Regions from separate parts of the Homo sapiens genome. Here region 2 is linked to region 1. The links come from fine-mapping of genetic effects on gene expression. A gene starts in region 1. The other region holds a variant in brackets. All regions are shown on one strand. Distances are from middle to middle. Region 1 holds the start of BBIP1 (BBSome interacting protein 1). Region 2 overlaps SHOC2 (SHOC2 leucine rich repeat scaffold protein).

The links. PIP is the estimated chance that this variant, and not a neighbour inherited with it, causes the effect.
Region 2: its variant is the best candidate, but not a certain one, in a credible set for the expression of BBIP1 in whole blood (TOPMed, PIP 0.50).

What each region holds. Positions count from the first base shown.
Region 1 is chr10:110,917,020-110,921,550 of GRCh38, forward strand. It overlaps BBIP1 (BBSome interacting protein 1), which reads right to left and starts at 2,161. Exons shown (of 4, transcript NM_001195305.3): 1 at 2,102-2,161; 2 at 1,102-1,194. The coding sequence starts at 1,138. SHOC2 (SHOC2 leucine rich repeat scaffold protein) reads left to right here and starts at 2,585. Exons shown (of 9, transcript NM_007373.4): 1 at 2,585-2,638. RefSeq lists silencers at 1,495-1,654, 2,505-2,944, 2,955-3,044 and enhancers at 1,786-2,325, 2,015-2,214, 2,235-2,284.
Region 2 is chr10:111,007,166-111,011,165 of GRCh38, forward strand. SHOC2 (SHOC2 leucine rich repeat scaffold protein) reads left to right here. Exons shown (of 9, transcript NM_007373.4): 6 at 366-488; 7 at 2,083-2,220; 8 at 2,548-2,665. Among named protein-coding and RNA genes, the nearest start is that of MIR548E, 20 kb to the left of the region's middle. The variant G/A (reference allele first, on the strand shown) is at 1,912.

The DNA of each region.
Region 1 (4,531 bases):
AAATGTTCAGCTTAAGCCTCTAGACTAACTTCTGGTTTACAAGAAGAAAAAAGAGGGGCCCATTTCCAAAAAGACTCCTGCCTTGAACTCTTCAAAATGCCAATGTCACAGGGGGAAAAAAGATGGGGGAACTCTACTACATTAAAGCTAAAGAAAAATTTTGACTGGATCCTGATTTTTTTTTTTTTTTTTTTTTTTTGCAGGATTGGGAAGGAGAAGGTATAAAAGATATTCCTGGGTAAATTAGGAAAATTAGCACTTGGCCTAGATTTTAAAAGTTACAAAACAGCTGAAATAATGATATTGTGTTTTGCTGGAGAACTTCAAAATTCTTAGGAAATTCATGCTGGAAATCTTAAGGGTGTCTTGCCTAACAATAAGTGTCTGCAACTTTTTATGACAATGAAAAAGTGGGGAGGAATGAAAAAAAATGGCAAAATGTTAACTGCTGCATATAGATGATGGGTACATGAATATTCATTAAATTATTTCTTTCAGCTTTTAAATATATGAACACTTTCATAATAAAACACTGGGGAAAAAAATCATGTCAGAAAGACTTCACAGGGGAAACGTAAAACAAAGATTGAGTAGCAGGCGCTCAGCTGAATTTCTGATAAATTGAAGGTCTCTAAAACTTGGCTGGAAGTGTCTTGGGCATCCAAGAGACACCCGATATATTCAAACTTTCAGTAAGTATTTACCAAAATAATATCATGTGCATGGTGAAAATGACGGGAAGACGAATCTGATACAAACCATTCTATTTAGGTGCAGACATGGTAGTGAAGCTAAAAACATAAGCGCTATTATATATATATAACATACTGATTGTCATAAAAGATGTACAAAAAATGCTAAACTCAGAGGAAATTACTTCCTGCTGGGAAGAATCTGGAAACACATCTCCACGGGTAACAGAATCAGATACAGAATCACAAAAGGTGACTGCTACAACAGATTTCAGTAATTAACAGCAAAGAAACAAGAGTAGTTCATTTTGGCTGGCGTGTAAGTACTAAGGAAGCAGAAATTAAGTCGAGAAGGTAGGTTTGCATCTGTATTGTTGACTGGCTGGATATTAACCATTTTCAATTTTACCTGAAAGTTCTGGTCTTTTTGCTGCAGCTTTAAGCATCCAACCCGGTATTACCAAGATGACTTAGAGTTCTTGACTCAAGCATACAGAAGAAACTACAAGATAATGTATGATAACTTTGTAAAGGGCCATATAAAAGCAATACAGTATTTTCAAAAATCTTCAACACGTTGTTTAAGAAACTGTAGACCTGCAGGAATCCCACCACCAGAACCGCAGTCAAAGCTTACAAAGACTCAAAGGAGAGACGCGGAAAGGGGGGAAAAATCAGAATGGGAAGGCAGGTGGCAGGGGAAAAAGATTGAGGTCCTGCCCTGGTGGTAGGGGCTCATCTTTTCCTTTTATAGGTGAAGGTGGAAAATGATTTTCTGAAGTTCCCGAATTCTCCTCCCTCCAAAGGCCAAGGAGTGAAAGTACTTAATAGGAACTTGCGGAGGCGTGGTCAAGAGCTCCGTTTTGCCGGAGTTAGGAGCTCCGCCCCGAGGTCCCCGCCCATTCCCCGCTGGGGTCCTCCCGGCCGGGCTGCCTCTGGCTGGGTTAGGGCGGCCTGTAGAGCGGCCTCACCCCACAGGGAGCCTCACGGGGGCGGGCCGCCGCCAGGCCAGCCCGGAAAAAAACCGCCTTCCAACGGAAGCGGCCCTGAGCCCCGCTCGCCATTTCAGCGCTCTGTCCCACAGGGACCGTCCGGCCCGGGTCCGGCCCACTGGTTGGGGTCCACGGACTCACCTCACTTTGCAACTAAGGTCAAAAATAAGCATTCCCTGGGGCACGGGCGGCCAGGCTATTAACACCCTTCCGCCATGACCCAATTCGGAAGTGCCAAATGCAACTTCCGGGCAGGAGAGGGAATTTCGGAGCCCTAAACTGTTGTCCATCTCCGTAAGTGACCAGACGTCTCAGTAAAATAAGGGCCAGGAAACTGGACGTGTAATCCGGAGTATGAATTAACTTGTCTAACATGGGATGTGTGGTCACCCACGGTACCTCTTTGGGCTTACTTACAGATGCATCCCTTCCCAGACGGCTCAGCTGTTGCCCCGGGTAACGGTGAGACTGGCGAAGGAAAAAAATCTACGTCACCCTGGAAACAGGAAGCCAGGAATCTCCTTTTGCCATTATCAGTTATGGCCGCCTTAGCTTCAACAGTAACTTCCGATCGGGGAGTTGTCACTCTACCCTGCTGGAGGCTTACTCTGTAGCCCGGCTAGCCAGAGGCGCCCAGTGGGCGGGAGACGGCGTAGAGGAACTGAGGAAAGGACAAGGGCGGAGAGAGAGAAGCTGGCGGCACTGCCCGTCTCTGATTGGGCAGCTTCTCTTGCCCCGGTTCCGCCCATTTTTCTTGCCTAGCGAGTGACGGGCCCACGGCAGAGGGGTGGGGCGGGGAGGCTGGAGCGAGAGTAGTGGCGGGGCGGGCGGGGCGGGGCGAGTGGGGGAGGGGCGGGCGGGGGGCGGCGGTTGGGCAGCGTCGCTTCTTAGGAGGAGGAGGAAGAGGAGGAAGGAGGGCGAGCGAGGAGGATGGCGGAGTCGGGGCTCCTGACGGTAACTCGGGGCCGATGAGGCGGAGGGTGTCTGTTGGTCGGTTCTTCCTGCCTGCCTTCCTGTCCGTCGGGCAGTCGGGCTGGCTGTCGGTAGGGGGAGGCCCCGTGCGCCCTGACAGGCGCGAGCCGGCAGCGCCGGGGCGAGGCCCGAGGGGCCGGGGCCCTGGGAGGCGCCGCCGCCGCCGCTTTCCTGGTTGCTGTCTCCGGGAGTGCGGGGCCCTTGGAGCCGGCTCGCGTGGGAGCCTGCAGCCCGGCGCGGAGAGGAAGGCGGTCGGGTGTGACAGCGGCCGGGGCCGGGCCTGCGGCGGCGGCGGCGGGCGGCCCGGACAGCGCCTGGGCGACGGCGAGCCGGCGCGAGGGCGCGGGCCGGGGGCCCCCGGCGGACAGTCTCTCTCCTCTCGGCTCCCTGGGCCCCCGGGCCCAGTCCGCAGGGCGCCCCGAGTCGTGTAAATCGTTGGCGAGGGCCCGGGCGCAGCGGCGGTCATACAGGGTGGGGTCTCTTCTCGCCCCCTCCCTGGAGTCCACCTTGCTCTCCCGTTCTCCTCTCCCTAAAAACCCTTGAGTGAAGAGTGCTGGATCGGCTCTGGGTGTGTTGCCTAGCGAAGCGAGTTGTAGCCCTTCGAGACCGCCTCGTAGAACATGCCCGATGGCAACCTCTCCCCGTGATAGCACAGCTTTTAGGGAGAGAGGAAAAGTAGTCTCACTCTTCCCCGACTTCCCCAGGCTCATAACACAAGAGGCTTTGGGGCAAGACGATTTTTCCCCCAGCACCTCAATATCCATTGTTTTTGTACCATCCCCCTCCCCCCATGCCTAGGTGGAAGAGTAATGACTCCAAAGCATTAACTTGCCTTTCTCTTTATTTCTTTTCTTTCTTTTTCTTTTCTTCCTTCCTTTCTTTAAGCAGGCAGTTTGTGTTATTGTGGAATTATGGATTTACAAACAGGTGGAATAAATACCGATTCGGGAGCTAGAAAGAAGATGCTTTGTGTGTGTGTTTAAGCCCTTACAGTTGGCAGTTTGATTTTTCTTGTCTGTTGCTTTGTATCGTAATGGGGGTGATGAGAATAAAAGAGGAAGCACTGTTTTGCAACCTACCCAAAGAAATATTTTCGAAGTCTCTGGGGATGCTGAAGCAAAATTAGGTTGCAGATGTGGACTGTATAGTATTTGCCTCCAGCGTGATAACTACCAGCAGTGTCTAGGCTTACACCTGTGCCATTTCGTATACTTTTCTTAGATACCGAGTGCGTCTAGTTTCTACTCAAGAGGGACTACTATATCAAAAGCTTTTTGTTACGGTTTTCAGAATCCTAAGGTACATTTGTGTAACCAAGTGTTTTTGTAACTAAATGCAGCAACACCACTGAAAAATAGTTTTAATTTTAAAGACCTCAATTTATTAGTGTACTTACTAATCTTTACCCTCATCCTCCATGCTGTGGACTGTAGAACTGTTACTGTGTACTTGAAGAGACTTAGCTATTGCATCCAATTTGTAACATTCAGTAAGGTTATATTTATAATTTGAATTTATCAAGTGTTGATGTTTTGCTGTGTGACAGTGAAAAGAATTTTAGGAATAAAGTATGCAAATGACCATTCGCCACATATGGAACTTAGACTGAGTATGATAAGCCTTTTGTCTTTATTTGGACATAAAGTATATTGTAAACTTTTTATGTAATTATAAATACACATTTGAAAAATAGACAAAAATAAACACAAAACTGAATAAAAGTTTTGTCTAAGGTTTGTAACTTTCAAATGTCTGAAATTTAATATAAAGCCAACATATAAAACAATATTGAAATCCCAGTTTCAAATTATGGACATGTCTTTAAGGGTACTGCATTTTCCCAAGGTGCTTGTTCAGTTTTATTTTTAGTTTTTA
Region 2 (4,000 bases), 90 kb after region 1:
CTTTATTTGAGCATTTATATTTTATTCAGTGATTTCTGCATATTGTGAAATTGTAAAAACATCATATTTATCATAGGATCTTTGAAATCTCCAGTGTTTCTCTGTATACTGTGTTTTTCTATTTCCATTATAATCACATAAGGAACAAACTTCCAGTTTAACTCCCAAATAAAAGCCTCATTACTGTATAAAAAACTTTGGAGGCTTAGAGTTTTCTGTTGCTGATTTTTTTTCTTTCTATATTTAAATATCAAAAAGGGGAATAAGATTTTGTTTAATTAAGAATTCTCTTTCCGAAGTGACAGGTATATATAGAACTTTGTTTTTGTGATTCTACCTTGGATGCTTCTTTTTGTCTTTGCCAGGACAATCAGTTAACATCACTTCCCTTGGATTTTGGAACTTGGACCAGTATGGTAGAATTGAATTTAGCCACTAATCAGCTCACAAAGATCCCTGAGGATGTGTCTGGTCTCGTTTCTCTTGAGGTTAGTATAAATGAGCAATTAGAGAACTTCAGAACCTTCCATACGTATCTCATTTAAAAATTTCAAATTTAAATAAGCAATTTCTATTTGGGTGAATGTCATAATTAGAAATGTTAGAACTCACTTAAACATACAACCCTAATAGGATAATGAAGTGTTGACTTAGGTAGTCTAGATTCAGTGCTTTTGAATTTCTCTTGCCTACTACAAGTTGGTGTCTTTGAGTGCCATAAAGTATTAATATCTCTAAAAGAAAAGTTCTGTAAAAGCATCTTTTAGAACAATTTTTTTCTTTATTCTGTTTAAAAACTACACCATTGTCTACCAAAATAATTATCGATTCTCAGACTGTCATTTAGAATGCTTTATCATACTTTTTCATCCTAATTACCGACCTGCTATTTTATTTACTCATTGATTATTGTCTTTGTTGTAAATCTGGTATGCCTATTTCTAGCCCTCTAATTTTAGTCCTATTGTTTTCTGTATCTAGAATGCCCTCTTCTCATCCCCTTAGTTTTTTTCTTTTAGTATGTTTTTCCATAATTAAAGATCCATCTTATTTTCACCTCTTCAGTTAAGGATGATTTCTCCTGCTTCTGAGTTCCTAGAGTTTTCATCCCTTTGATGAAAATGCTTACTAATAGTAAATATATTGCTTTTTAAAATTTCCTTCATATCCATGTTTTTTAAAGGTCTAATTTTTAAATTATTTAATAAGGTGAAATAGTATGGTTTAATGGCTAAAAACATGGGCTTTGAAGTCAAACAAAGCTGAGTGTAATTATCTCTGTATATTTATGTACTTAACTTGCCCAAGCTTCAGTTTCTTAAGCTGTGAAATGGGGATAATAAGAGTATCTACCTTGTAGAGTTGTAGTTAGGATTAAATGCAATAATGCACATAATGCATTCAGTACAGTGCCTTGCAAATAGTAAAATCAAGTGGTGACTGCTGTAATTATTTTCTCCATCTTACTGTATATATTTATTATGGGTGGTGTAACATTAGGGAAAATAAATGAACATAAAAACTTACCCAGAACCTTACGTATCTGTTTTACCTATTGCTCTTTCTCCCAACCCAGTATTGTCTCCTTACCTTTCTGCTAGTTTGTAACTTTATCGGAACAAAGGCTATCTTCTCTGCCATTTTAACCCCCTTCAGTATCTTCCAGGATGCTTTCAGTGTAATAAGAACACCACAGATAATAAATAGAGTGGATTGATATAGCAAGTTTAGAAGGTAGCTTTTACCTTCCTTAAGTAATGGTTTGTAAGGGATTTTGAATAAATAGTTTCCTATTAGATAAACATTTGTAACTATTGAGCATTTTTTTGAAATTTCATTAAAATTAAATTGCTTCTTTTGTTTTCATTAGTTTTGATATAATCAAATAAAATCTCTTTTCTAATAACTATG[G/A]TGTTTTTTTAGAAAAGTAAGTTAAATATTTTATATGTTATATAATTGAACATCACCCTTAATATTCACTGTTTGGAAAATTAGCATTGCTTAATAGATTTTAAGCCACACAATGACAGTATATAATTTCATTTCATGATTTCCTAAACATTATCAATAATTTCTCATTAGGTTCTTATCTTATCAAACAATCTTCTAAAGAAGCTTCCCCATGGTCTTGGAAACCTTAGGAAGTTAAGAGAGTTGGATCTAGAAGAGAACAAATTGGAATCCTTGCCAAATGAAATTGCATATCTTAAGGATTTACAGGTAAACATTATGCTGATTTTGTAGTTTTATAAAGTTTTTGGAATCTGTTCCAAATTCCACATTTCTCTTAAGATTTTGATGTAATTCTTGGATCAGATAGACTTTCCTATTCTAGTATTAGGGCTGAGTTTTATGTTCATATAACCTGGCTTTGTTTTCCTAACAAATGGTATTTTGTGAAAGAAAAATATGTAATGTAAGTGATTCTCATTCTATCCAATCTGGTTTCCCTGTTAATTTATTTTATTGTTTAGACATATTATTTTCAGTTTACATTAAATGTAGGAAATATATTTGTAACTCTCTTTTATTTTGTAAATCTTTTAGAAATTAGTCTTGACAAACAACCAGTTGACCACTCTTCCCAGAGGCATTGGTCACCTTACTAATCTCACACATCTGGGCCTTGGAGAGAACCTACTTACTCACCTTCCTGAAGAAATTGGTATGAACCCTGTGAATGCTTGACTCTGTACTAATAATTTGCTCTTGTGCATTCAAGCAATATTTCAGATAAATATGACAAATCTATTGTTTTTTAAACTGAGGTTATATCAGGCTTAAGATTTTTTTTTTTAATAGAGCACCGATGGTTGATTGTTGATTGGTTTTGGTTAGGTTTCCTAAAGGCTGTTAGGATTGGTTTTAAAATTAGTACTGTATTTGAGAATGTTTTGGAATACTTACATTTCCAATAGGTTTTATGTATAACCTCATTTTAGAAGTTATTTTATATTCCTTCTAAATTTAAAATTACACAGGCTTGAATTAGTAATGTTTTATGCCAAAAGAACATTTATGAGATTTTAGAATTAATATTAATATTTAACCAATATTAACATTTGGGAATACTTAACATTTTCCAGGTGTTTTCATTTCCATTATTTTATGTAATATACATGACCACCTGGAATTTTAGACAGTGCAAGTTGTAATCTTGCTTTATAAAGAGAATTACTTGATTAAGGTAATTAAATGTTAGCTTTTAAATTAGTAATTCTATGCATTAATGTTTTCCCATCTATAGTGCACTGTCCCACAGGAACTATAGGTTAGTAAACACCGCATGTTCTCCTCATAGGTGGGAATTGAACAATGAGAACACTTGGATACAGGGTGGGGAACATCACACACCGGGGCCTGTCGTGGGGTAGCGGGAGGGGGGAAGGATAGCATTAGGAGATATACCTAATGTAAATGACTAGTTAACGGGTGCAGCACACCACCATGGCACATGTATACATATGTAACAAACCTGCACGTTGTGTACATGTACCCTAGAACTTAAAGTATAATAAAAAAAAATGGTTTTGGAGATAATTGACAATTCAAAATCTAGCCCTGCTGCTTATTGGCTTTGTGACTTTAGGTAAGGTATGTAAACTCCCTAAGCCTCAAGTTTCTTACCTGTAAAATAAAGATGATAATAGGAAGTTCTCACAAGGTTGTTCTGAAGCTTAAATAATATCTTACATGTAAACAAATTGATTACATACTAGCTATTATTTCTGTTATTTTCTAATAAATGCCACTGTGAAATATTCTGAATTTTGAAATTTAAAAATTGGAAACACATGAGGCAAATTTACACCTATATTTCTAGTATATTTATTCACCTGATCTCATTTAATTGCTTGAGACATTTTCCTAGAGAATACAAGTATCCTAAGAAAAAATTTTTAAAGGTCTACATAAGTCAGTTTTTGGCTTACTGCCATATATGTGATAACTCTTAGTGAAAGGTTCATATTAAGTAACAAATATTTTGCACATAAGAAAT